Linked DNA regions of Homo sapiens. The protein of the gene in region 3 purifies or fractionates together with the protein of the main gene of each other region. This does not show direct contact. Each region holds a gene or a part of one and is shown on either strand. Other genes may lie near its edges.

Region 1 (5,739 bases), on a different chromosome or scaffold from region 3:
CGGAGCCACACTGCAGGGCGCCTCTTAGGCGCGCTCCAGCGCTGGGCGCGCTCCGCACGGACGCCCAGCCTGGCACAGCAGCGTCCACAACATGAGAGCGCTGCACACCCAAATGTCTTCGTTCTTGTGAACTGTTGGGTAAGGAATTATGAATAAAGTCCCGAATGCTGGCCGGTGCGGTGGCTCACGCCTGGGAGACTGAGGCGGGTGGATGACCTGAGGTCAGCAGTTCGAGACTAGCCTGGCCAACATGGTGAAACATCATCTCTACTAAAGTATAAAAATGAGGCGCATGCCTGTAGTCCCAGCTACTCGGGAGGCTGAGGCAGGAGAATGGCTTGAACCTGGGAGGCGGAGGCTGCAGTGAGCCCAGATCGCGCCATTGCACTCCAGCCTAGGCAACAGAGCATGACTGTCTCAGAGAAAAAAAAAAAAAAAAAAAAAAAAATAATCCGAATGTTTCCCAAAAGGCAAATAATCTATGCCCAAGAGTCAGGAACAAGGACTAGGGAGATAAAACAATAAAATCTTCACATTACATACTGTTGTCACACCATGTCGCAGCAAAAGATCCAGTGCAAAATAGTTTCTTCTTAAAATGTGTATTTTCAGAATTACAATGCTTACATTTTAAAGTCTTAATACAATGGTTTTAATCTAACAATATATTACATAATATGAAAAATGACTTTTCATAGTAAACCATGAAAATGGAATACCTGCAGTGTCAAAGTCACCAACTTGTCACCTTTTCCAGTCACAGAATCCCAACACATTGTATTAATGATGACTGGGGGGGGTCTTACAGCCTGATGTATATAGGATGAATAAATGTAGAGAAAGGAGCATTTTCATGAAAAATAAAATTTAAAAACCAGGTAGGATTTATTTTAAAGAACACAGTTGAAAGTAAAACATTTACATCAGCCCAGTTTGCCCTTTTGTAAAAAGTAGTATAGCTTTTCATTTTATATACAAACCTGCAGTGTCTGATTTCATTTTAAAACTTAATTTTAAGCACTAAAGAAAATTTGAATAGAAGCCTGTGTGTATTTTCTCTGCTAATTCTGTATGGGATATCTGGCATCTCCACTAAGAGTAATTAATACAGGATCTGACCTTCCTAGGCTGTGCTGACAATGGAACTGTTGTAGGTAAAGTCATTTTCAGATTAAATACAACAATTTCCACATTAGAATCAGAAGAGTTATAATTTTTCCAATCATAGGACATCCCATGAAATTCACAAAAATTATAACTTATTTTATTTTCCATTTGACAGTATTTACATGTTCCACAGATATTTGTAAAACGGCTGCAAATTCCTTGCTTTTCAGATACACATTGCATATCTGGCTTCACAATTATTTAACATCTCTTTATCAACAAAACCAGCTTGTCTCAAACACATACACCTTACTTTAGATAAAAACAATAAACATCCAATTACAGTTACTCTTTTAGGACTTTTATGATGAACATTAAGAAAAAAATGACAATTTTGGGTGACATTCTTCTTTGTCTTAAAGAGGCAGAAGCATTCATGTAACATAGTTTGCAAAAGATCTTTTGGGTAATTAGGGGGAAAAAAACTGATAAATTTGATTTCATTTCATTTCCAGGCAATTAAGCGCCGTAAACATTTTAAATTTCCCCTTCACTTTCTTCCTCTAAATATATATGTAGTTGGATAATTTCATCCTGGGAGTAGAACCAGATACAAGAAAATCAAACAGTAATAAATGAAACATTCCCTCTTCCAGAAGGTAAGAGAGAAAGCTACATTACACTGGGGAAGGCTCCCAGGCTGACGACACGGATTACAGTCTCTTCTGACGGAATCAAATCTCCCATCTCTTTATTCACAGGACTTGGTAGAAATGCAGGGCAATCGTCAATTTTTACAATAAAAAACCTTATTTTAGAAACCCTAAACTATCATTAGATTCTGAAGTTCTAATTTGCTAACTAGTTTGACCAAGTTTGTTAAACTGCACATGAGGAAGATAAATTTCTGGAAAGTTTAATTACACAATTATTTATCTTCTTTACACGTCTCCAGTTTCTACAAATGAAAAAGACAGGAGGAAAAAAAAATCACACCACCTTTATTTATTGAATGAGCTAAAAGACAACACAGAGAATACTGGAAATGACGGCTGTCATATTTCCCCGGTCTGTGCCTCCTTCCTCCCATGCCCCACCGCCTCCCGCAAGCACAGTGCTGGGCAGGAACCCGGTGCTCCTTCTCTCCACAACTTGCACATCCACGGGGATTCACACGAGGGCCACCCACTGCTGGACCCGACTCTATCTGCTTGAGCTAATCTTGTCAAGTTCAATTCCAAGCACATTTGCCCAGTAAATTAAGAGTACTCTATTTCAAGTGTACAAAAATACATCGCTTTGGAGAACTGGAAAAGGTTTAATACATACAACACTTATTTACAAGCTGTGACTTTCACACCTGTAAAAACAAACACACTTATTTTTGTCCTTGATTTTTGGTGCAACTTATACATAAACATTACATCAGTTAGTCTGTATTTTTAAAAATAATAAATCAACCATATGTACAATTAAATTTACAACCGAAAGCAAATAATCCATTGGAACAGTGTGACTGCAACTCAGTAGACCAGTGGAGGACATTCCAGGACTTGAGTCCTTCCCTACAACCAGACCAAAAACACACTGAGGACCTCTCTCATCCTCACGATGGAATATCTTAATTTCTAAGACTTAAGATGCAAAAGAAAAATAACGATTATACAGCTACAATTACATGTAAAGACTTTAAAGGGACAGAAAAACAACATATTAACCCCCACATATATAATGATCATTAAATTAAATATATTTAACTCCCAGTGCATATGATATTCTATCAACATTATGGGGGACCACAGGGTTCCAGAAACATTTATCCCTAAACCACCTCACCGCTGAGGCGCTCCTCACAGCCGGGTCTCAGCTTTCTTCAGTACCTTTCACGTGGCTCCGGCTGATGGGCCTCCAGGTCCCCCAGCTCCGGCATCCCAAGGCACAGAAGGGGTTATGATCCCTCCCTCCCCCACCCGCCTCCCCTAGAAGGGTGTTATTCTAGAAAAGCACAATGAGAGGATCTGCGGTAAACGGCTGTTTTACCCCTTAGGGGACACAAATCCACCCCGATCAGGAAACTGGGCAGCTGTGTGACCAGAAAGGCACACACGTCACTAAGACCGTGAGGGCTGCTGAGTGTCTACCTGAAAGACAAATGGCCTTCCACGAAGAGCCAGCAGACGGAGGCTGTTCCGTGGAGACAGCGTGGGTGGAAACTTTCATGAGCAGCGTGTGAGGTAGGGGGAGGGAGGCCAGGGCTCTGAGTAAGCGGCGTCGGACACCAGCATGGGGACGGGGTGAGAAAAGCAGGAATCTGAGATCACAGGCGGCATGAAAACAACAACAGAACTCAGCTGGCCAGCTGCGTGATGACACTCTCTGATGTCCCCACGGCCAGGCAGGACCACTGAAGGTCTGGCTGGAGCCAGAACGGAAGAGTCCAGTCACAGTCCCATAAAGTGCACTCCTAGCTGGGAAGTGGCGTGTGTTCACCCTGGCGTTGTCATGTTACACTGACTTCCAGGACGTGGTCATCTTGGCTGGGGATGACCAGGACTTGTGTGCCCGAGCTGGAGTTGAAGACCTGGCCGGCCGGCAGTGCCTGCAGCCGGGGCATGGGTAGGCCTTTGTGCTCGCTGCTGCAGGCCGAATGCACGCTGCCCCTGCTCTTGAGGCTGCTGCTGTCCGGCTGGTCGTCCCCGTGCTTGTCTACTGACAGGCTGTCGTTTTCTATCCAGCTGTCTGCAAAACACACAGGAAGTTAGACCCAAGCTGCGCCGACACTCACCTGGGGACGGGCAAAGCCACACGGAGCCAGGCTGAACGTGCAGAATGCCACCCGAGGCTGCCCCTTTACAGAGCACTCTGTGCACAGAGGCTTGGCTTTCAGAGCAGGTGCCTAAGATTCTAACAGCGGATGAGGCTTCTAGTACCAGTTTCTACCGGCACTGAAAACACGCCGCTAGTTCTCCAACCTGCTCAGTCATAAGTTTATCACCTCTCGCACAAAGTGCTCACCTGCTCAAATACTGAAGGTAAACTTTTTCTTCCAAAGTCCTTACCAGCGTCCAGTTGGGAGGAGTGTGCAGAATGATGGGGGAGGTACTTGAACAGCCTGACGTCGGGCAGGGGGAGATACCCGGCGAAGAGCGGCATCACTTCCATGTGGACCCTGTGAGTGGCCCGAGCAGCCACTGGCATGGAGATGACACCGCAGCTTTTCCCACACACTGCCCAGTTGCTACTGTTGTCGACAACTGAAACGAGAGGAAGCGATGTGTCATCCAGGACGGGCCTTCCAGTACTCAGGCGAGAGTCACGGCCGTCGTTACCCAATCCTCTCACCCAACGCTGTCTGACAAAACACTGCGGACACAGAGCCCAGTGCCTTGTAGCTGCGCCTGAAGATAAAGCCATGCACTTTCACGGTGGCAACCCCTATTTCATTGAGTCCAATTTCAATTAGTTCTGGATTAGAATGAATTATGCTGGACGTGTACAGAAAACTGCATTTTTCCTGTGAGGTTAATAAATGATTTAATTTTGTTTTCAAATTTTTGTGTCATCTTCCACAGTATGGTGACTTTGGCAGTTAATGGGTTCTGTCTGGTAAGTGGCAGTATCCAAGACCACTGGGTCTGAAGCCAACTCTGCCACTCAGAAGAGCACCCCAAGGCCTCCAGGCTCAATGACCGCTGTATAGTGCTGAGACCACCACCAGCCTCACAGAGCTGCTTTTTAAGGATGGAAAGAGAATACGTATGAGGGAACTACAAAAAGTTCATGCAAAAATGGAATCCAAAGATGAAAACAGAAAATATAAGCTTTATTTCTCAACATAAGCCCCACCAAGGTCAAGACATGTTTGTAAGCAATGATGCCATTGCTTACGATGCCATTTAGTCCATCCCTGAAGAACTGGGAGGCCTGAGAATTTAGCCATGTCAACGCAGTCTTTCTCTACATTATTAGCTGAATAAAAATGGGTGCCTTTTAAAGACTTCTTAAGATCAGGAAACCAAAATCAGTCAGAAGGAGCCGAATCAGGTCCACAAGGTGGATGCCTCATGATTTCCCATAGAAACCCTCACGAAGTTGGGCTTGTTAGAGGAATGAGCAGGAGCTTTGTCGTGGTGGAGGAGGACTCTCTGGTGAAGCTTCCCCAGGGGTTTTTCTACCAAAGCTCTTGCTATCTTCCTCAAAACAATCTCATAATACACAGACGCTGCTGTCCTTTGACTCTCCAGAAAGTCAACAAGCAAAATGCCTTGAGTATCCCAAAAACCTGTTGCTGTGGCCTCTGCTCTTGACCAGTCTGCTTCTGCTTTGGTGGGGCCACCCCACCTCTTGGTAGCCATTGCCGTGTCTGCTTTGTCTTCAGGATGGTACTGGGAAGGCCACACTGCATCTCCTGTTATGGTTCTTTGAGTAAATGCTTCAGGATCTTGATCCCGTGTGTTTGAAGTTTCCATGGGAAGCTCTGCTCTGGTCGGCCACGGACCTGGGTACTAGGGTTTTGGCACCCACTGAGTGGAACGCTTGCTCACCCTTCAGGCGTAATTGCATAAGCTGAACCAGTTCAGATGTCTGCGGTGTTGGCTGTCATTTCTGCTGTTGTCAGTTCCCTCCAATTAG
Region 2 (5,739 bases), on a different chromosome or scaffold from region 3:
TGTCTATATTAGCTGGCTTTTTGAGCAACAAACCATGAAGCATCAGGAAACGGGAATTAAATTCATTTGTTATTATCAAATAACATGCAAAGAGATTTAAACTGATCCCTTAATATTTGCACAATTGTTACTGGGCATTAACACTGACCCTTAATCTGATTAAATTTTTGTTTACCCAGTAAGTCCATTTTTCTCTGCTTAATTTGTTGGATCTCTAACACTCAGGGTGACAGGAGTCTCTAAGAAATAATTGTCACAGCACAGGTATGTATCATGTGTGCACATGAACACATACATTCTGGATGAAACTCCCCAAAAGCCAGTTTCTTAACCCTGCACTTTCACCCCTTTCTCTTGCATATGAGCCAGGCATAAACCTCCATATACTCCTCCCACATCCAGGCTCCAGAGCCAGACTGCCTGGGTTCAAATGCAGCTTTAGCGGTTACTGTGTGACCTTGGACAAATCACCTAGACTTTCCGAGTTTCAGTTACCTCCTCTATATAGTGAGGATGATAATAATGGCATCTCATAGGGCTAAATGAGTTCATAGCTGTAAAGTGCTTAAAATAGCACTGGGCACAGCAAGTGCTAGAGGAATTTATCAACTTGGTACCGTTACAATTTTTGTAAAATGGGTTTGAAATGCAATTAATAAACTAGCTAATTTTAAAAAACTAATTTAAAAAACAATGATTTGCAGCCGGAGCAGTGGCTCAGACCTGTAATTCCAGCATTTTGGGAGGCCAAGGTGGGGGCGGATCATGAGGTCAGGAGATTGAGACCATCCTGGCCAACATGGTGAAACCCCATCTCTACTAAAAAAAAAAAAAATACAAAAATTAGCCGGACGTGGTGGCGCGTGCCTGTAGTCCCAGCTGCTCAGGAGGCTGAGGCAGGAGAATCACTTGAACCCGGGAGGCAGAGCTTGCAGTGAGCCGATATCATGCCACTGCATTCCAGCCTGGGCGACAGAGCAAGACTCCGTCTCAAAAAAAAGAAAAAAAAAATACCAATGATTTTCTCTTTTTTTAAACTAATAAGTATCATTTGCTACTAAAATTAGATTATAATGAAGTGGCCAGTGCCTCCTTGGTCACCTCTAAATTTTGATGTCATTTTCAGGAGAATCAGGCTTGTTGATCTTATTCTCCTCCAAGCCTCTTTTTTAACCCCCTAGTCATAGTCCTTGTCATGATCAGCTTCTTCTTCAATCCTGTATCATTTAGGAAAAGTAAAGAATATGCATGTATGTGTACATGTATGTGCATATGAGAGTGTGTACATATGTGTATTGTGGATGTGAACATGAGAGCATGTGTGCATATGTGTTTGTATATGTGCAAGAGTAGCACGTGTGCATGCGTGTGTGTGTAGCAGGAGTGGGTGGGTGGAGTTTGGCCATGCTGAGCATCTCAGCACAACTGCACTTTCACTGTGACCTCCTCCACTTTTCTGCCATCCCTGGTTCTGGATTCTATCCTCTTCCTTCCCCATCTTCCATTGGTAGCGCAATCAGCTCTCAGTCCAGTGACACTTACCTATTAGTGTTCTCTAGAACCTCTACCTTCTTCCGAAGCTCCAAGTTCTCAGTTGAACAAGACTCCACTCTACAAAGGAGGGAGAAAGAAGAAAATTATTATCCATAGAGCAAACACTAAGCTAGGAGCTAGGGTGGAGGTAGGTGGGGATGAGGAAAAGGAGGGTTGGGGGGATCTGCCACCCCATGGAAGTGTGGGAAAGTATTGAAAGAAGGATGAAGAGACTTAAGAAAAAAAAAAAAATAGGCCGGGCACGGTGGCTCACGCCTGTAATCCCAGCACTTTGGGAGGCCGAAGCAGGCGGATCACAAGGTCAGGAGATAGAGACCATCCTGGCCGACATGGTGAAACCCTGTCTCTACTAAAAATACAAAAATTAGCTGGGCGTGGTGGCACGTGCCTGTAATCCCAGCTACTCGGGAGGCTGAGGCAGGAGAATCGCTTGAACCCAGGAGTCAGATGTTGCAGTGAGCCAAGATCGCCACTGCACCCCAGCCTTGTGACAGAGCAAGATCTGTCTCAAAAAAAAAAAAAAAAAAGAAAAATAGAAGGAGCTGGGGCCGGGCGTAGTGGCTCATGTCTATAATCCCAGTAATTTGGGAGGCTGAGGCAGGCAGATCACTTGAGGTCAGGAGCTCAAGAATAGCCTGGCCAACATGGTGAAACCCCATCTCTACTAAAAATGCAAAAATTAGCTGAGCATGGTGGTGTGTGCCTGTAATCCGAGCTACTTGGGAGGCTGAGACAGAAGAGTCACTTGAACCTGGGAGGCAGAGGTTGCAGTGAGCCAAGATCATGCCACAGCACTCCAGCCTGGGCCACAGAGCGAGACTCTGTCTCCAAAAAAAAAAAAAAAAAAGAGGGAGCTGAGTGATGAGTGCCTGAATAATGAAAGATGAATAGTGACAGTACAAAATATGACCCTCTTTTAGGGTGTTACAACCTCTTTCCTCTCACCTCCTCCCTAGTGTTCTCAATGCCCATCATACTTCTCCCTCTATACTACAGTAATCTGGATACTCCCAGCTACACTCTTACCAGGACTGATAAGAAGTGAAGAGACTTAAGCAAAGGGCAGGACGAGAGCCCAGGACTAGGAATCCTGGTGCTGGGGCACGCATGCCCAAAAGAGACAGTAAAGAGACTTTCATAGGAACATCTTGACCCTGGATGCCCATAGAAAATGGTGGGACAGCATGGGACTACAGTCTTCCCACGGTATTCAGGGGGGATTAGTTCCAGAACTCCCCACAGATACCAAAATCTCCAGATGCTCGAGTCCCTGATTAAAAAATGGTGTAGTATTTGTATATAACCTTTACATATCCTCCAGTATATGTTAATCATCTCTAGGTTATTTATAATACCAAACACAATGTAAATACTATGTAAATATGTGTTATCTTGTATTTATAGTTGTATTATTTTTTATTGTTGTAGTTTTTTTTTATTGAGTTGTTTGGTTTTGGCTTTGGTTTTTTGAGACAGAGTCTCACTCTATCATCAAGGCTATAGTGCAGTGGCACAATCACAGCTCACTGCAGCCTCAACTTCCTGGGCTCAAGTGATTCTCCCCTCTCAGCCTCCTGAGTAGCTGGGACCACAGATGTGCACCACCATGCCTGGCTAATTTTTTTTTATTTTTTAGGGGGTCTGGCTATGTTGCCCAGGCTGGTCTTGAACTCCTGAGCTCAAGCAATCCTCTCACCTTGGCCTCCCAAAGCACGGGGATTATAAGAGTGAGCCATCACACCCAGCCTATTGAAGTTTTTTTCTGAATATTTTAGACCCATGGTTGGTTGAATCTGAGGACGCTGAACCCCCAGATATGGAGAGCCAACTATACTTAATGCTGCATTACCAGTACTTAAGTCAGGTGATAGAAGCACTAAACTTTCAATAGTAGCTTTGAGAAACAGCCAGGAACCACCAGCCACTCCTTTCCCCAGATCCACATGAAGTTCATTTCTGGGTCTGGGGCCTCATGCCCATCTTAAAAATATCTTGGTTTGTTAGCTAAAGAACTAACTTCCAGGGCTAAGACAAAACTGTATTTAATTCATCTTTTTCTAACAGCCCGCCTGATATTACAGACTTTTCAAAAGAACAAAGATTGCCTTCAAGTGTTTTTGCAAAAAAAAAAAAACATGAATTGTAGTGGCTGGAAAATAAAGGCTGCCAACCTGACATCTTTCTTTCCCTATGTGCCCTCTCTAGAGCATGAAGGAGTGTGGCCAATGGGGGCTGATTAAGTAGCACTGCTCCTTTCAGCTAAAACAGGGCTTCTCCTGCTAGAAGTTCCAGGAATGTGCAGGAATGTTAATATTTGTATGTGTTTGAAAAGAAGTCTGTGAGGACTCCGGGGTCCTTGGCTGGCAGTGGTATGATTCAAACACCTACTAAGGTACTTTCACTTCTTTCTTGCTTTATTATAGACGTCTCCTCCAAATAACCACTAGGTGGCAGGCAAACCACAGCTGATAAACCACCGGGTTTCCAAGGTGGCCAGAAAGAGGAATTGAACTGCTTCTCCCCGATTCTCCGCACACCCATATTTCCCTGTGCATACTGCCCGATGAACGCAACAGTTTGCCAGCAGGCTTACTTTTTCTCCAGGCTGTCCATGTATTCTTTCTTCTTTCTCCTACTTTCCTGAGCAGAAATCTGAGAGAGAGGAGTGGGAGGAGAATGATTAATTTCCAGCTCTGTAAGTAAACCAGTTAAGATGGGAGGTGGTTAGCGTAGAAGTCACCAAAGCCCTGCTTACTTCTGCAAGCTGCTTGCCATTTGTTTAAGCTGCTGGTTCATTGACTAGTCTGTCCTCCCGGGTTTCTAGCTGCCAAACTCACACCTACTTTCCTACAAACCAGGCCACCAGTAAAATGGACACTGAGTGGCCAGGAGCAGTGGCTTACACCTGTAATCCCAACACTTTGGGAGGCTGAGGTGGGCGGATCACTTGAGGTCAGGAGTTCGAGACCAGCCTGGCCAACATGGTGAAACCCTGTCTCCATTAAAAATACAAAAAAATGGCAGGCGCAGTGGCTCTAGCCTGTAATCCCAGCACTTTGGGAGGCCAAGGCGGGTAGATCACCTGAGGTCAGGAGTTCAAGACCAGCCTGGGCAACATGGTAAAACCCCGTCTACTAAAAATACAAAAATTAGCTGGGCGCGGTGGTGCATGCTTGTAATCCCAGCTAATTGGGAGGCTGAGGCAAGAGAATCGCTTGAGTCCGGGAGGCAGAGGTTGCAGTGAGCTGACATTGTGCCACTGCACTCCAGCCTAGGTGACAGAGAGAGACTCCATCTCAAAACAAAAAACAAAAAACAAAAAAATTAGCCGGGCATGGTGGCACACGTCTGTGGTTCCAGATGCTTGGGAGGCTGAGGTAGGAGAATCACTTGAACCTGGGAGGCAGAGGTTGCAGTGAGCCGAGATCATGCCACTACACTCCAGCCTGGGTGACAGAGTGAGACTCTGTATGAAAAAAAAAAAAAAGAAAGAAAGAAAAGAAAAGAAAACAATGGACACTGAGTGAAGAGCCAGGCCAGAACATGTGGCTCACAAACCATCAGTGTGGTCTCAGATAAATGAGTTTAACTCCTGGACCTCTGCTGGCTGAAGTACATATATAAAATAAGACAGCTGGCTTGGTCATACATCAACTTGCTGCTGGTTCCGCACATGGATAGAGTGACACTAAGCTCTTGTCTTCCTTCCCTCTTTGCCCCCTCCCTCCTGGTAGGCCTGTGCCTCAGCCATCCCCCTGGTTTTCATCAGGCCTGCTCAGCACTGAGGGGCCCAGGGGTAGGAGACTACTGAGTCCAAATATAGACCAGCAAACTGCAGAAGTTTTGTGATCACAAAACCCTACCAAGAAAAAAAAAAATTAACCAAGCACTTGCAATGTATTTGTATCTTATATATATATAATATATATATATGCTGTATTTTATATAGATACATAGAGTACATATATATGTCTACTAGAGGAAACTATTGTATATATCATACACCCAAAATTTAAAAGGCTGAGTTAAAAAAAAAAAAAAAAAACTAGATGGAAATTCTAATAGCTTCCTCCCACCCGTAAATGTATCATCGTGGGCACCAAAGAGGTAGATACTGATCTGGGAGTCTGCTGGCCTCAAGAGGGATGGGATGGGCTGGAGGAAGAGAGGGGCACGTGGTGAGGG
Region 3 (5,739 bases):
GAGGTGGACAGAGCAGTGGAAGGTGTCAAAAGCAGGAAGGTAGGGCTGGGCGCGGTGGCTCACGTCTGTAATCCCAGCACTTTGGGAGGCCGAGGCAGGCGGATCACTTGAGGTCAGGAGTTCAGGACCAGCCTGGCCGATATGGTGAAACCCCATCGCTACTGAAAATACAAAAATTAGCCAGGCACACGCCTGTAATTCCAGCTACTCGGGAGGCTGAGACAGGAGAATCGCTTGAACCTGGGAGGCGGAGGTTGCAGTGAACCGAGATGGCACCCCTGCGCTCCGGCCTGGGCGACAGAGCAAGACCTTTTTTTTTTTTTTTTTTTTTTTTTTTTAACGAGGCAGGGTCTTACTCTGTCACCCAGGCTGGAGTGCAGTGGTGCGATCTCGGCTCACTGCAGCCTCGATCTCCTGGGCTCAAGTGATCCTCTCACCTCAGCCTCCCGAGTAGCTGGGACTACAGGCATCCAGCACCACGCCTGGCTAATTTTTAAAATTTTTTCTGTAAAGACAAGGTTTCGCTATGTTGTCCATCCTAGTCTCGAACGCCTGGGTTCAAGCAATCCTCCTGCCTCAGCCTCGCAAAGTGCTGGGATTGCTGGCGTGAGCCACTTATGCCCGACCTATGCAGTGTTTTAAAAATAATTTTTTCCATGAAACAAAGTTTGTGTGAAGTTCTGACGTGTGGAATTTCCACCTGTGCGTCATGGTAGGCACTCACAAAGTTTCGGAGTGCGGATGTCAGGTTTTGGATGAGGGATGCAGAAGCCGGGCTGCTCAGGGAACCCTCTGTGTTAACCCTTCCTGGGCGAGCGCGGGGAGGTGGCGGCGGGGACAGTGCCCCGAGCGGGAGTGGGACCAGCGGCCGGGAGGGGAGGGCCTCAGCCAGGGCCGCAGGCCGGGCCGGGGCGGGGAGGGCAGGTGCGGCGGGGCCAGGCCGTGGAGGCCTCCGCCCGGGCAGCCGGCTGACCCCTGCCGTCATTTCCTTTGAAGCCAGAGAACAATGGCTCAAAAACAAGCGCAGCCCGTCCTTCGGTCGCCTCCCGTCCACGCGCGCGTTCTCCGGGGCTGAGCGGATGGGAAGCCTCAGCCGCAAGGGGCCCGGCTGCCTGGAGAGCGGCCGCCCGCGGAGGCCCCGCAGCCTAACGCCGCCCCGGCGCGGCCTCCCTCCCTTCTCCCCGCAGCCTGGAGAGTCACCGCCGAGGGATGAGGACGCGCCAGCCCGGGGGAACGCGCCAGCTGCTTTCGCGGCCCCAAGCGCGCAGCGCCCAGCAGCCGCGCCGAGCCTGACACGCTGTCCTCTCCCCTCGCGCACAGGGCTCTGCGAGTGACCCGGCGGGCGAGCTCCGTGCTGCATGGAACGGCTGCAGAAGGTGCGCGGCGCCGCCCCGGGCCGGGGCCGCCGAGGGCGGGTGGGGGCCGCTTGGGAGTCCAGGGCGCCACCTGGTGGCCACCCGCCGCGCAGCGCCGCGCAGCGCCCCGGGTCCCCCAGGCCTAGGGCCGCCCCCGCCCCGCTCCCGCACACACGCACGTGCCCACCCGCCCGCCTTCTCGCTCTCCCCAGCAACCACTTACCTCCCCCGGGAGCGTGAGCCCCTCCCGAGATTCCAGTGTGCCTGGCTCTCCCTCCAGCATCGTGGTGAGTACCCCTCTCGGCCACCAGCAACCCCTGGCTGGGAGGGGGGAGGGTGGGGGACCCCTGGCTGCTAGCGTGCCTTCCCGCAGAGCCTCCCCAGTGGTGGTCCCTCCGGTGCTGGCGGGCAGAGAGAACCCAGAAACCCAGAGAAGCTCCCATATCCCCCTTCCACTGGTCTGGCCTCGTTAATCCGAAGTGCTAGGCAAAGGACTATCATGTTTTAAGGTGACTAATTTCTTAAAATAATAGAATTGTTAACGTCTGCAATGGCGGTCCATTTTCTTGGTAATTGACGTAAGTCTAGCTAGCAGGGCCAGTGTCCTAGGCGGGGCTTTCGGCACAGCAGTTTCACGCGCACCTTTCCCTTCAGGCCAAGATGGACAATCAGGTGCTGGGCTACAAGGACCTGGCTGCCATCCCCAAGGACAAGGCCATCCTGGACATCGAGCGGCCCGACCTCATGATCTACGAGCCTCACTTCACTTATTCCCTCCTGGAACACGTGGAGCTGCCTCGCAGCCGCGAGGTGAGGGGGCTCCTCTTGGGCAGGACTCCGGGGGAGGCCCCCCCCAGCCACACTGGGTGGGGACCGATCCCTCCCGTGCTTCCTTTCCTGGAGGTCTGCCTCGGCAAAACAAGAGAGGGAACTGTGCGCAGGAACCAACCAGTCAGTCCATCCGGTGTTCAAGAGAGCAGGCAGAACGGTCTCTGGGCTGGCATGTGGCTCAGATGTAGAGGGGTGGACACCTTTGGATGGCAGCAACACACAAGAGGCACAAAGAGCAAGATTTGTGGAAACAGTTCAGAAGCATTGAGAGCGGGGGCTGAAAGTCTAGCGGAGGGACCCATGTGATGTTGTGGCCTCAGCTTACCCTCGTGTAAAATAGAGGTGACCTTTCTGCCCATCCACGCGCAAGGTAGTGAAGGTGCAGGAGACAGTGCAAGGCAGGTACTCATCAACTGCCTCCAAGACAGGGTAGCGTCGTGGCTGACCAGTGACAGGGGGCTAGATCATGGGGTGACTTCAGTACCTGCGTGATAAACCCCGACCTCATCCTTGGATGCTTCTTGGTCTTGTCTCTTCTATTTGTTTTGAGGCTCTGAGGACAGGACAAACTATTCCCCAACTGGTTCCCAGGCTAGGCACGGTGGCTCACACCTATAATCCCAGCACTTTTGGAGGCCAAGGTGGGAGGGTCACTTGAGGCCAGGAGTTTGAGACCAGTCCAGGCAACACAGGGAGACCCCCATCTCTACAAAAATTAGCAAGATGTGGTGCTGTGCACCTGTAGTTTCAGCTGCTCAGGAGGCTGAGGTGGGAGAATCCCTTGAGGCTGGGAAGGGGAGGCTGCAGTGAGCTGTGATAGAGCTACTGCATTTAGGCTGGGCAACAGAGTGAGACTATAAGAAAGAAAGATGAGAGAGGGATAGAGGAGAAAGAATAAGAGACAAGAGAGAAGAAAGTGGAGAGAGAGAGGAAGGAAAGAGGGAAGGAAGGGAGGAAGGCAGGGAAAGAAAGAAAAAGGACAAAGGAAGTAGGAAAAAATTAAAAGAAAGATGAGAGCGGGAGAGAGGAGAAAAGGGGAGGAGAGAGGAAGGAAGGAAGGAAGGAAGAAAAGAGTGCCCTTGGAGCCCCAGGAGTACTGAGCAAGGCTCGCGTGCTTCTCTGTGCCTCCTGTGGGAAGGCTGAGGACTTTGTGCAGGGAACTGTGGGAAGGATCCAAGAAAGCAGAGGTGGCCCAGAAGCTGGCCAGGAAAGTGTGCGGCTTTGGGTGGGGGATGAGGTGGCCTCTCTGGAATTCTAGGGAAGAGGCTGAATCTGCCCCTGTAGCTCTGACCAGCCCCCTCTCCATTCACAGCGCTCGCTGTCACCCAAATCCACATCCCCCCCACCATCCCCAGAGGTGAGTCTGCCCCACACCTGCAACTTGCCCTGCCCTGCCCTGAAGGGGATCCTAACTCCCTCCCCTCACACATCAGACCAAGCTCTGCAGAGCCCAGGGAGTGCCCGAATCAGCGGCCCCCTGGCTGTCACTGGCCAGCTCTGTGTCCATCATTCTGTCGGACCCAGGACCTCAACCCTTTCTCCCTGGGCCAGGCACCATCAGTAGGTCCTTGGAACTGTGCCACAACATTGCCCTGGGTTTGGAGGGATGCAGCCGGCCAGGATGGGAGGACAGAGAGGGTGGTGTGAGCTGATGGGGTGCATGTGTGGGTTGGAGGGGGTTAGGGGCCCTGGAGCCACACGCTTCTGCTCTGCAGGTGTGGGCGGACAGCCGGTCGCCTGGAATCATCTCTCAGGCCTCGGCCCCCAGAACCACTGGAACCCCCCGGACCAGCCTGCCCCATTTCCACCACCCTGGTAGGTCTTCTCGGCACGACCTCATTGTTTCCTAAGACTTTCTCCATCAGGAACCCCAATCCCCTTACGCTCAGTCCCCCACTCTCTGGGGTATATGCTCGCCTCAGGGCTAAGTAGGCCCCAGGAGGCCAGGACCCCTCCCAGAGATGGGAGACCTGTCACTTTTTCTCTCTCCCCCAGCCGGAAAAGTGTAAAATGTCCCAAACCCCTGAGGGGCAGTGCCAGGAATGCCAGCCCTGTCTTGGCTCTTGACAGGGGCCAGTGAGTTCCCCACCTTGTCCCGTTCCATCATCTCCATTCTCCTGGCCCCAGCCTCCCTGCCATCAGCATGTCCTCCTCCTCATCTGTTCTTCCTCCCACAGAGACCTCCCGCCCAGATTCCAACATCTACAAGAAGCCTCCCATCTATAAGCAGAGAGGTGAGGGCGCCCCTGGCTCACCAGAGCCTGCTTCCGGCTGCATGCTGGGAGGCCGTGCCCTGGGGCTGCGGGCTGGCTGGAGGGGGTCGGGAGGATAGCATGTCACAGCAGCACGTGTGCCCCGTGCTCAGCGTGTACACTGCTTTTACCTGCAGGACCTCACAGGTGTGAGGGGGGAGGGGTGAAGGTAGCCAAGTTGGCCTCGGGCAGGGCACACCTGGCTGACCCTGGCCTTTGTCTGCAGAGTCCGTGGGAGGCAGCCCTCAGACCAAGCACCTCATCGAGGATCTCATCATCGAGTCATCCAAGTTTCCTGCAGCCCAGCCCCCAGACCCCAACCAGCCAGCCAAAATCGAAACCGACTACTGGCCATGCCCCCCGTCTCTGGCTGTTGTGGGTAGGAGAGATGGGGAGAGTGGAATGGGTGGTCTGGGAAACTCCTGCACTCCCTCCCCTTGGCTCTTGCTGCAGTCCGTGAACCCACTCCCACCCCTGCCCTATGGTGTCCTCGTGGGCTTTTTCCTACCTTCAGGAGCCCCCAGGCTCCTTGCTCACTCACTCTCTGTGTTCCCATAGCGCTTGGTGTAAGTGGCCCTTTTATTGGTCATTCATTTGCTTTCCATTCATTTATTTCCTGACTCAACAGACATGTATCAAACTTCTGCATCCCAGGCTCTGTGAGGGGAGCACTGGGAAAGAGAAAGATAAATGATAGATGGTTTGGTCCCCAGCGAATTTTATTTTAATTTTTATTTTTATCCATTTATGGGGTACAGGTGTAATTGGTTACCTGCATAGATTGCACAGTGGTGAAGTCAGGGTTTTTATGATATTGTTATCTGAATACTGCACGTTGTATCCATTAAGCAATTTCCCATCACCACCCCCCACACCCTTCTGAGTTGCCATGGTCCATCATCCCACTCTCTACATCCATGCGTACACACTATTAAGCTCCCACTCATGAGTGAGAACATGCAGTCTTTGTCTTTCTGTGTCTTGTTTGACTTAAGACAATGGCCTCCAGTTCCATTCATGTTGCTGCACCCACTGAATTTCAGTCATGAGTGTGTGTATGTGTGTGTTGCCTACCCAGCTTCATGGCAAGGTGAGAAAATGTTACTCTTATTTTATTGTATTTTTATTTTATTTATTTATTTATTTATTTATTTATTTGAGATGGAGTCTCACTCTGTTGCCCCAGGCTGTAGTGCAGTGGCACAATCTTAGCTCACCACAACCGCCACATCCCGAGTTCAAGCATTTCTCCTGCCTCAGCCTCCTGAGTAGCTGGGATTACAGGCATGCACCACCACACC
Region 4 (5,739 bases), on a different chromosome or scaffold from region 3:
AACTAAGAATGCTAGGAAAAAAATTATTTCAGGGTTACCTATGTTTTAAGGACTGACAGATTAAAACTCTGTAAGATATAAACTTTCAGGATTGACAAATTAAAACTCCTTAAGATCTAGACTTTCAATGACAAATGTGTTGAAGAGTGATACTCAAACATACTTGAAGCCTTATGATAAAAGTCAAATGTTACTTCTTCTTCAGGAGCTTTTTGAAGCTGTTGCTTCTCTTCTAGTAAACCCAATGCCAGAATATGAAAAGCCTGAAGGAGGAAAATAAGAGATCTTTAAAATTGCGCTTCTTCAGGTAAATATATTTTTAATTTAATTTTAATTTTTTTCAGAGACTGGTCTCACTCTGTCACCCAGGTTGGAGTGCAGTGGGGCAATCCTAGCTTACTGCAGCCTTAAGCTCTTGGGCTCAAGTGATCCTCCTGCCTCAGCCTCCTGAGTAGCTGGGGACTAGAGGTGCACACGACCACGCCCAGCTAAATTTTTTTTGGAGGGGGCGGGGGGTATAGACAGCATCTCACTATGTTGGCCAGGCTGGTCTTAAACTCCTGCGCTCAAGTGATCCTCCTGCTTCAGCTTCCCAAAGTGCTGCAATTACAGGTATGGGCCACCATGCCTAGCAAGGTAAATCTATTTTAAGTAGAAGTATAAAAATAAGAAAGCTGATAGGTAAAAAACACGGAAAGGTTTCAGCAGTTCACATTAAGCAGTTTACAGAAAGAGAAATGATGAATACACATATGAAAAATGTTCAACCTGGCCCGGAGCTGGTGGCTCACTTCTGTAATCCCAGCACTTTCGGAGGTTTGGGTGGGTGGATCACCTGAGGTCAGGAGTTCATGACCAGCCTGGTCAACATGGTGAAACCTTGTCTCTACTAAAAATACAAAATTAGCCAGGTGTGGTGGTGGGCATCTGTAATCCCAGCTGCTTGGGAGGCTGAGGCAGGAGAATCGCTTGAACCCAGAGGCGGAAGTTGCAGTGAGCCAAGATTGTGTCACTGCACTCCAGCCTACTCCAGCCTGGGTGACAAGTGAAACTCCATCTCAAAAAAAAAAAAAAAAAAAAAAAAAAAAGTTCAACCTCACTTAAAGAAAAATGAGTTGAAACAAGATCATCCTATTTTTCACCTATTACAGTGGCAAAAATTTTGGTGTTTAGTAAAATATAGAGCTGGCATAGGTATTGGGAAGTAGGCACTTTTGACCATAGTGGTGATGGTAAAGTAAACTGGTATAACATTTTTGGAGGCCAATTTGAAAACATCTATCAAAAATGTAAAGGTATATACCAACTATTAGGAATTAGTATGACAAATACGCTCCCTTAGGTATGCAAAAACATTTGTATAAGAACGTACATTTTATTGTTCTTTGTTACAGCAAAGACCTAGAAACACCTGAATGTCTATTAATAGGAGACTACTGAAACACATTATATCCATACAATGGACTACGCAGCTATCAAGAATAAGTAGATCTATATGCACTAATGTGCAATGATTTCCAGAATATACAAAACTTTAACAATGCTTATGTCCTATATAGCATACTGGGACTCAGGGAGAGAAATTTTAACTTGGTTTCAAACATATCTCTATGGTTTGAAATTTACTAGTGAATGTATTTATCAGTGTTATAATAAAAATTGAGGCACACATATGGCAATGACAGCATTTAGAACCTGTAGACCAACAATACTCAAGGAAAAAGGAACATTTAGTTAGGCAGGTATAAATAAATATGGTGTTACAACTACCATGACGTGGCATAATTAAGTAACGTGTATTTATCTACAACAGTAACAAGGAAAAGTAGCTGCTTTCACTTTAGCTAATTCTCCTACCTCTATGAATAATTACACTTTTATCCATTTTACTAATGAGAAAATTATTATTTGCTCCTTAAATAGGAAGTGGGGAAACCCAAGACTGACGTCTAGACCTATCTTCAAATTTTATTATACTGTCTCCTTATAATTCAAGTAAAATTAAAAATATAAAAAATCATGACACAATAACAACATGTCAATTTATTAGCATAAGTACACCTGTTTTTGTTTTCATGGGTTTTATTAAACAGAAATGGTTCCCAAGAGTAAGGATGCTAAAAACACGAGATCACTAAAAAAAATTTGTGCTGTGTGTAAGCTATTTTTAATGACCCCTATGTTTCCGGTGCTCTAGATGTGGTTCCAACTGAAGTTAGACCTGAGATCTTCCCTAGCTCCCCAAGAACTCTAGGACTTGATGTAGAGAAAATATTTCAGGTAAACAAACCATTTGGAGCATCCCTTCGGTCCACAAGTTAGAATCTGTGTCTATTGCCCGCTCAAATACGGTCCTGAGAATGTACATCATGATATCACAGTTGAGAAGGTTAATCACTTTGCTGAAAGCAGGGCAGAATTCAGGAGGTGGTGGTGGCGGCAATGCTATAGGAGGTGGGGAATGGATGGGGAAAGAGACAAACAGGTACATTTTTATTTGGGTTATCCTACATACTAAAGTGCAAATGTCAAAAAATAATAGGTTACATGCAAAACAACACATGCTTTTTTGCTACCTTTCCAGTACTGAAAATATCAATGTTAAGTGTAATGTAAGTACTATATCAGTCACCCAAAATGAACTACATTTGTTATCAATTTTAAATTCAATCACTACTGATATATACCATATCTTAATATGTGAATAAGAAGCAAAAAGCTCTTTGCACTTCCTTGAGTTGCCCACTCTCAAAAACCAACAACAACAAAAAACTATATGCTTTGCTGATGTGAAACCACAGAAAATAGTCAAAATGAGTCAATTCAGAATCTCACTTTTTACCTTCATCTTTGTTTTCTTGTTTTCTCCTTTTCTTCTGCATATGTTCAGCCTATAAAAAAATCTATCATTAAATATACTGCTTTGGAAGCATGAAACAAATGAAATACATTAAAGCAGTCAGGAAAGACCCAACCACCTATTAAAATACTTTATATACTGAAGCATGTATTCAAAATGCCTCTTTGTCCTAGAAATAAAATTGTGTTCTAGAGAAACCTAATGCAAAATAGATGAGGAATATCCCTGATCAAAAACTTAGTCTCCATTATTTTCTACTGAAAATATTTACCCAGTACCTATTATGCACAGGGTACTATGCTATGGGCTGTAAAGTATTTACTTGATAAGGACAAAGCCAGACATCACCTTAACTAACTGATCAAACTTAACATGATCCTTCATGGGACAAAAAGACGTATGTGCCTAATAATGGGATGCAATATATCATTTACATAGTATTCTTGCCAAAAACTGTTTAAGCTGAATCTATTTGGTACTCTATAGAAATGCCGATGTTACAAAAGAAAAAAATGCAAAAGAATTATCTTCTAAATTAAAGGAAACTATTGGCCGGGCGAGGTGGCTCACGCCTGTAATCCCAGGACGTTGGGAGGCCGAGGTGGGTGGAATCATTTGAGGTCAGGAATTTGAGACCAGCCTGGACAACATGGTGAAACCCGGTCTTTACTAAAAATACAAAAATTAGCCAGGCATGGTGGCATGTGCCTATAGTCCCAGCTACTCAGGATGCTGGGGCAGGAGAATCACTTGAACCTGGGAGGTGGAGGTTGCAGTGAGCTGATATCGTGCAACTACGTTCCAGCCTGGACAACAGAGTGAGGCTCCATTTCACAAAACAAAAACAAAAACAAAAAACAAAACAAAACAAAAACTAAAGAAACATGACAATCAAATGAGTGTGTGATGATGAAGTCCATGATGCTTGATTGAATCCTCTTCCCAAAACAGCTATTAAAGACATATGTAGTATAATCAGGAAAATCTGAATATTGCCTGTATACTAGATAAGATTATTGATTCAATTTTAATTCTTGGGTGACATAATGACCTCTATTAATAAGAACCAGCGTGAAACTATAGAAAAAGCAGAAAATTTTCTGTGGAGTTAGAAAGCATAAAGCATTTAGGTTTATTTACTGAAAAGGATACTTTTTTCTACCTTGCTATGCTGGGTTTTGGAGTAATGATAAAAGTACATATTGAAGTCTTTCAGTGATTCATCTTTTAGTTCATAAACTCCATGGCCTGATACACCTGGTTTCCTAAATAGATGGAAAATACAAGATGAACTGCAGTGTTCTTGAAGTATAAAATATAGACAAAATAAAAACCTAAAAATTAATCTAGAAGTCAAATATACAGAAAAAAATTATGTCTCATTTAGCTTATGAAAAATTCCATTGCAATAATAAAACTAAAAACCTACATTGTGAACACAAAGCCTGATAACAGCTAAGCTGTGTTTTATAATAATGAAATTCAAACAAATCTGGAGAAGTTTGTTTTATACTATCTAGAACTGATACCATGCCCTATCTCTAAAGCTTCTTAGAGATTTAAGAGTCTCTGATGCCTAAAGGTTGTCTGTTCAACTAAAGAACACTTCATTGACCTTAGACACTTCATTGTCTAAGGTCATATCTAAAACAGTAGGGAGACATCATAACCTTAGTAATTTGCAAATGAAAATATACTACTGAATCCTTTATATAGTACTATAAGGAAAATCACTGAGGTCAAAAGGAGTACTCCATATTTGTTCTAAACATTAAACAGCTTTTGGTTTCTATCCAATCTCTAAGTCGAATATTTCAATGAACATTACTAGATCATAAGAAAAGCTATACCCTATTTTAAAAGTTATTTGAAACTAGTAATGTATCTGTAAACACAATACTGTAACAAGTAGAAATTCACTATCAGTATCGATTTTTCAAATTTCAAAGATTAATACAATTAAATTTGTATTTCCATTTTATATACTGAAATGAAAATATTATAAAATACTGTTTTAATTCTACCAGAGAATAATCCAAAATTAGCATATAAAATAAAAATTTATAAAATAAATGAAATCATGGGTTCAGATTAATGGGAAAGAGAGTATCAGAAAAGTTCATTTACTTACTATCTAAATAAATCACCTAATATCATAAATGAGTATTTCTCATTCACTTGCCAAAAACACTCATTTTTTCAACAAACAGGTGCTAAGTGTCTACTGTGAGCCCCTCATTCTCACCCTTTCTAATCTGTATTCCACTCTTATTCTTGGGAGTTCAGGCAAGAACTTCAGAGCTTCTACAAAGTATCCAAAGTACAAGAACAAAGATCAAACTACCTTTTAGAATAAGCATAAATATTAAGCACTTACTTAAATGTGGCCACTTTGTTTATGACATTCTCTAAGCCAGTTTCATTATTTTCCTGTTGAAACAATATTTTTGTCATTTTTACCTTCATATAATGACTTCCACCTCTCTGTGAAGTGAAATACATTTTCTACTGCATCTCTGAAGTACTTTGTAAATAATTTTAAAAAGATCAATTTCCACTATTAAAAAATTAGGTCTAAAACCAATTATCTACGTTTTGGGAGACCAACTTCGTAAGAGGTAAGATGTATATATAAACTGTTTAAGAAAGGTTATCTAAGTTTGCCTTCATATGTGTGTATAAGTACACACATACATCTACAGCATACACACATAGTATTACCAATACTTCAAAGAAAAGAAGCTCTTCTTTATGTAGTATGTTCATCACCCTCATCATTTATGTACATGCCCATGCTGTATTAATCCCTAAAACCAAGGTAACAAAATTAATGAGCTCCAACTAGTTAATCTATAGCAATACATGTCTAGATGTCCTAA
Region 5 (5,739 bases), on a different chromosome or scaffold from region 3:
ATATACACTATGCAAACAAAAAAGATAATTAGTAACTCCAAGGAAAGCAAAAACTTGTGCAGGAAAAGTAATCACAGTACCCGCCATGGTTCAGTTGTGAAGCATATTTACACAGTCACAATGGATATGAACACATCTGCCCAAAATCACACTTCTGAATGGAAAGCTAGGGATGGGGACAAAAACGAGCTTGAATGTGGCAGGGAAACAGGGATAAGAGAAAACTAAATCCTTATCTTCCACAGAGAGAAGCCCGGAAATAATGGAGAAAACTAACAGAAAAAGAAAAAAAATGCAAGTGTTACAATTATATAAGCATGTTGCTTAAAGACAGGGAGATGAAAAACCAAAAGAATTAGTTAAAATGTTTCAAGATGACTGCCTTAGGGGAACAGGAAATGGGACAGGGGGGTTGGGGGATTGCTTTTTCCAAAACAAACTTTATTGCAACTTGACATTTAATGAGCATGTGGAATTCTGATAAAAATAAAAAACTTAAAAAATCATAGCCAGAAAAGTTCATCCTCATTTATACACACATACTGGAGAGTCCCTACTGACTAACAAGAAGCTAAGCTGTTAGCTATAAGCCCCTTTCCTTTATCTAAGTTCTCATTGCAACTGCTGTTATATACAAGGTAAAAATAACCAGAAGAGTAAATATGGAAAATGACTCCATAAAAAGATGATGTGGCTGGGCCCAGTGGCTCAACGCCTGTAATCCCAGCACTTTGGGAGGCCAAGGCAGGCGGATCATGAGGTCAGGAGTTCCAGACCAACCTGGCCAATATGGTGAAACCCCGTCTCTACTAAAAATACAAAAATTAGCAGGGCATGGTGGCATGCGCCTGTAGTCCCAGCTACTCAGGAGGCTGAGGCAGAAGAATCACTTGAACCTGGGAGGCGGAGGTTTCAGTGAGCAGAGATCGCGCCACTGCACTCCAGCCTGGGAGACTAAACAAGATTCTGTCTCAAAAAAAAAAAAAAAAGATGATGTATAATGAATTACAAAGAGACGCAATTCAGGAAACATTTGATGCCACGTAAAATGCAAAAATCACATAACTACTTTATTTTGCAATGTTAATGAATCCCCTTTTATAAAGGCAATATGCTTAGAATAGTGCTTTCCATGTAACAGGCACCAAATACAATTTAGATTCTTTTTTCTTTAACCAATCGAAATCACCCTTTTCTGATCACAGATTAAGCCAATCAACTTCAAACTTATGAATAGAATCCTGTCCATAATCCAATAAATTGCTAATTGAAGACAAATGACTTCTGCCTTAGAAGATACCTTCTCTTTATAACCACGAAAACTGAAAGAGGACAGCACAGGATACTCTGTCATTCTATTCTTTGTGTAATGACACAGTGTCAGCAAACCAGACCCCATTTTTCTCATCCTCTGCCAATCCAACGGCCAGCTGGACTTCTGGGTCGGGGCGGGGGTGGGGGGGACGTGAAGAACTTTTCTTACAAGAGGATTGTAAAATGCACCAATCAGCTCTCTGTAGCTAGGATTGTAAAACGCCCCAATCGGCGCTCTGTAGCTAGCTAGAGGATTGTAAAACGCACCAATCAGTGCTCTGTGGCTAGAGGTTTGTAAAATGGACCAATCAGCACTCTATAAAATGGACCAATCAGCACTCTATAAAATGGACCAATCAGCACTCTGTAAAATGGACCAATCAGCAGGACATGGGCAGGGACAAATAAGGGAATAAAAGCTGGCCACCCTACCCAGCAGTGGCAACCCACTAGGGTCCCCTTCCACACTGTGGAAGGTTTGTTCTTTCACACTTCACAATAAATCTTGCTGCTGCTCATTCTTTGGGTCTGCGTCACATTTAAGAGCTGTAACACTCACTGCGAAGGTCTGCGGCTTCATTCTTGAAGTGAGCGAGACCAAGAACCCACCAGAAGGAACCAACTCCAGATACACCAGCACTTTGGGGGGCTGAAGCGGGCAGATCACCTGAGGTCAGGAGTTCGAGACCAGCTTGGCCAACATGGTGAAACCCATCTCTACTAAAAATATCAAAAAAATTAGCCAGGTGTGGTGGTGCACGCCTGTAATCCCAGCTAGTCGGGAGGCTGAGGCAGGAGAATCGCTTGAACACGGGAGGCAGAGGTTGCAGTGAGCCGAGATAGCACCACTGCACTCCAGCCTGGGCGACAGCAAGACTCCATCTCAAAAAAAAAGCTCCTAATCAAGTATCAGTGAACCTTTGGGAGTCTGCGATCATTCTAAAATTAACACGCAAAATGTGCTGGGCATGGTGGCTCACGCCTGAAATCCCAGCACTTTGAGGTGGGTAGATCACGAGTTCGAGAGTAGCGCGGCCAACATGGTGAAACCCCGTCTCTACTAAAAACACAAAAATTAACCAGGCCTAGCGGTGGGCATCTGTAGTCCCGGATACTCAGGTGGCTAAGGCAAGAGCACTGCTAGAACCCAGGAGGCGGACACTGCAGTGAGCTGAGATCACACCACTGCACTCCAGCCTGGGTGACACAGCAAGACTCAGTCTCGGTGGGGAGGATATGCAAAATGTTACATATTTTTGTCTACATCCCTTTGGGCAGGAGGCCAGCTCTCATCGACTTCTCAAAATGGTTTGCAACCCAAAAACAAGTTAAGAGCAACCAAGGGAGACAGCTTTGAGGACCAAACAAAAAAACTAATGGACAAAAAACTGTTTAATTTTTTAATTTTTCATTTCTTAAAGTAAAACTGTCTTTTAATTTTATGAGTATATATACACATTGAAATTGGGGGCAAATACATGCTTCAAAATGTTAACGCACTTTTCACATTTTCTATCAAAAAAAAAGGTTCAGGTGCAGTAGTAGCTCACACCTATAATCCCAGCACTTTGGGAGGCTGAGGCAGGAGGCTCCTTTGAGCCTAGAAGTTGGAGATCAGCCTAGGAAACATGGCGAGATCAGCCTAGGAAACATGGTGAGATCTGCCTAGGAAACATGGCAAGACCCCTTTTCTATAAAAAAAAATGTAATTTGCCAGGCCTGGTGGTGTGTACCTACAGTCCCAGCTACTTGGGAGGCTGAGGTGGGAGGATTACTTGAGCCTGGCAGGCAGGCTGCAGTGAGCCATGGTTGTGCTACTGCATTCCAGCCTGAGCAAGACCCTGTCTCAAAAAAAAAAAGAAAAAAGAAGAAAAAGATGATGATGACCTTATAACCAGAATAAGAGAGAAGATTTTTCTATGTTAGGGTGAGGTGAGAAGGTACATGGAAAATCCAAAAGATTATGAAAAAATCCAACGAAGACTTTGTAGGAAAATAGACTTTGGTTTAAGTTTCCCATTTAAGAAAACTGGACTCTGGGCCAGGTGCAGTGGCTCACGCCTGTAATATCAGCACTTTGGGAGGCTGAGGCAGGTGGATCATGAGGTCAGGAGTTCAAGACCAGCCTGGCCAACATAGTGAAACCCCATCTCTACTAAAAATACAAAAAATTAGCCGGGCGTGGTGGCAGGCACCTGTAATCCCAGCTACTCGGGAGGCTGAGGCAGGAGAATCACTTGAACCCAGGAGGCAGAGGTTGCAGTGAGCCGAGATCGCGCCATTGCACTCCAGCCCAGGCGACAGTGCGAGACTCCGTCTCTTTAAAAAAAAAAAAAAAAAACTGGACTCTAAGTGTAAGTGGCAGATTAAATTTAAGCCCTCTTCCTTCCAATTAATTTTTTTTTCAACTTTTATTTTAGATTCAGGGGGTATAGGTACAGGCTGGTGACCTGGATATATTGCATGATGCTGAGGTTTGCAATATGGATGATCCCACCACCCAGGTACTGATCGTCATACCAAGTTGGTTTTTCAACCCTTAGCTCACGCCCTCCCTCCTCCTCTAGTAGTCTCCAGCTTCTACTTTTGCCATCTTTATGTCTGAGTACCCAAGGTTTAGCTCCCACTTATAAGTGAGTGAGGTGGGAAATTAAAGAAAAATAAAATTAAAAAGAAAGATAAATAAGCTTTCCTGTATTAGGCCGACTTGTCCCAGAGGCAGCAACAGGCACGGCCCAGACCCAGGAAAAGCCTTGATAATATTATCTAGTGTGCTCTGGAGATTCTCCCAGCACTCAACATGCAGAGAAGAAAAAATAAATTTTCCTTTGTTTTACGGAATGAGTTCATAGATTCCTGTTCTCTGTAACTAGTGACTTCAAGTATTGTTTTATCTGAGAAGTACAATGAATGTCATGAGAAGCCTGAGTAGGCCTGAACTGCAGCTGCCTGGGCACCATAGTGAAGATTATGGGATAAGCCCAGGCAAACCTAGATAACGGACATCTGGGTTGCTTGGCAACGGTCATGTGCAATCCTGAGTTTGTCCTGCCTCTGTATCCCTGCTTTCACGCCACTGTAAGCTTGCTTCAAGCTAGCCCACCCCCTTCTGTGAACTGTGTATAAAAGTCTTTGTTCCGGGCCCAGTCTTTTAGACGTTGAGTCAGCTGGGCCTAAGTGCACTCAATAAAGTTTCTCCTGTTTTAACCCGAGGTCTCTCTTGTCCTCCTGAATCCCACAACATGAGAACGTGAACCTACCAAGTAATTTATAGGAGCCTGTAGCATTGCTTGAACACAAGCACTGTGTCAAGCAATACACCAGAATGCAGAAAATTCTAAGCTAAGTCCTATAATATTTAATATCCAAAAGTAATGTGAATATTTACCAACATTTTCCCAATATTTCATGGCATTCATTGACAAGATTGCTAAATTAAGAGGGTATTTTTTTCACATATTTATATCTGAACCAATCAAACAATATTACTAAAACCTACTGATCAGCACATAAATACAGCATCAGTATGAAGAAAAGACATAACTCATTTACTTTTCCTTTTAAAGGACATCTACCTAGAGCGGAAATAAACATTAAAAAAGCACAAGAGACTACTAAAATATTATACACAATCTTCATACTATAAATCCTCTTTCTACTAATTAAAATTCTTACCTTATTGTGTACTGAGGACAACATGTTTGATTCATGACAGGTTTGTACACATATTTTCCACTTCTAAAATTATAAAAATAGTTTGTTAATGTCTTATATATTTTTCACTTGCACCAAAACAGCCTAGCACAGGAGCATTAAATTAAGGTTAAAAATCTAATCAACATTGTAGAAATGCATGTAGGTTTAATTACTCTTCATAAGCCAAATAATCTTCAAAGTGCGTGTAGCAAAGTTTAGAACCCTGCCTTTTATTTCCTAAAGCTTTACTTGTGTACCCCACGGCCAATCATCTCAGTTCCCCTCTCACCAGCATCTGCCACCCCTGCTCTGCCTTCACCTGCCACCAATCCCCAATACCACAAGGGCAATGAGAGAAATGCCCACGATGCTGTGGGACTCATGTATGTGATGCCTGTGACAACCACACTTGGGTATTCCACATGCACCAGCACGGAGTACCCCAAAACTAACCCGCTTCTTTCCATGCATTCCAGGTCTATGGTACTAACAGAACTGTTCATTCTGTTCTCAAGTCAGAGACCTGGGAGTCATTTTAAACTCCTCCCTGGAATTCACCTCTATATCCTATTAGCAAGCTTTCCTTCATTTTAAACCCTATCCTAAATTGTCCCCTCTTCTCTATCACCATTGCCACTAAGGTGACAGTCCTCATCATCGCACATCTGGATAGCGCAATAACCTTTGAACTCATCTTCCTGCCTCTATGACCCCCCCTCAAATACCTCT

The links.
Region 1: the proteins of DMTN (region 3) and TRAPPC10 purify together in Homo sapiens (affinity purification with mass spectrometry, with the first as the bait; one large-scale study listed by BioGRID). This does not show direct contact.
Region 2: the proteins of DMTN (region 3) and CREB3L2 purify together in Homo sapiens (co-immunoprecipitation; one large-scale study listed by IntAct). This does not show direct contact.
Region 4: the proteins of DMTN (region 3) and UBR1 purify together in Homo sapiens (affinity purification with mass spectrometry; 3 studies listed by BioGRID and IntAct, with this or other methods). This does not show direct contact.
Region 5: the proteins of DMTN (region 3) and ATE1 purify together in Homo sapiens (affinity purification with mass spectrometry; one large-scale study listed by BioGRID and IntAct). This does not show direct contact.

The regions. Positions count from the first base shown.
Region 1 is NC_000021.9:44,101,400-44,107,138, reverse strand, and holds the end of TRAPPC10 (trafficking protein particle complex subunit 10), read right to left. Parts: intron 4,362-5,739; coding exon 4,167-4,361; intron 3,847-4,166; coding exon 3,608-3,846; 3' UTR 587-3,607; downstream 1-586. UniProt on the Homo sapiens protein: Specific subunit of the TRAPP (transport protein particle) II complex, a highly conserved vesicle tethering complex that functions in late Golgi trafficking as a membrane tether.
Region 2 is NC_000007.14:137,899,812-137,905,550, forward strand, and holds part of CREB3L2 (cyclic AMP-responsive element-binding protein 3-like protein 2), read right to left. Parts: intron 4,207-5,739; coding exon 4,148-4,206; intron 1,612-4,147; coding exon 1,543-1,611; intron 1-1,542. UniProt on the Homo sapiens protein: Transcription factor involved in unfolded protein response (UPR).
Region 3 is NC_000008.11:22,065,518-22,071,256, forward strand, and holds part of DMTN (dematin), read left to right. Parts: intron 1-998; exon of another isoform or gene 999-1,187; 5' UTR 1,188-1,358; coding exon 1,359-1,376; intron 1,377-1,567; coding exon 1,568-1,642; intron 1,643-2,009; coding exon 2,010-2,165; intron 2,166-3,498; coding exon 3,499-3,543; intron 3,544-3,901; coding exon 3,902-4,001; intron 4,002-4,363; coding exon 4,364-4,420; intron 4,421-4,664; coding exon 4,665-4,817; intron 4,818-5,739. UniProt on the Homo sapiens protein: Membrane-cytoskeleton-associated protein with F-actin-binding activity that induces F-actin bundles formation and stabilization. Its F-actin-bundling activity is reversibly regulated upon its phosphorylation by the cAMP-dependent protein kinase A (PKA).
Region 4 is NC_000015.10:43,022,539-43,028,277, forward strand, and holds part of UBR1 (E3 ubiquitin-protein ligase UBR1), read right to left. Parts: intron 5,291-5,739; coding exon 5,238-5,290; intron 4,126-5,237; coding exon 4,023-4,125; intron 2,892-4,022; coding exon 2,843-2,891; intron 2,446-2,842; coding exon 2,291-2,445; intron 264-2,290; coding exon 164-263; intron 1-163. UniProt on the Homo sapiens protein: E3 ubiquitin-protein ligase which is a component of the N-end rule pathway. Recognizes and binds proteins bearing specific N-terminal residues that are destabilizing according to the N-end rule, leading to their ubiquitination and subsequent degradation.
Region 5 is NC_000010.11:121,917,360-121,923,098, forward strand, and holds part of ATE1 (arginyl-tRNA--protein transferase 1), read right to left. Parts: intron 5,053-5,739; coding exon 4,990-5,052; intron 1-4,989. UniProt on the Homo sapiens protein: Involved in the post-translational conjugation of arginine to the N-terminal aspartate or glutamate of a protein. This arginylation is required for degradation of the protein via the ubiquitin pathway. Does not arginylate cysteine residues.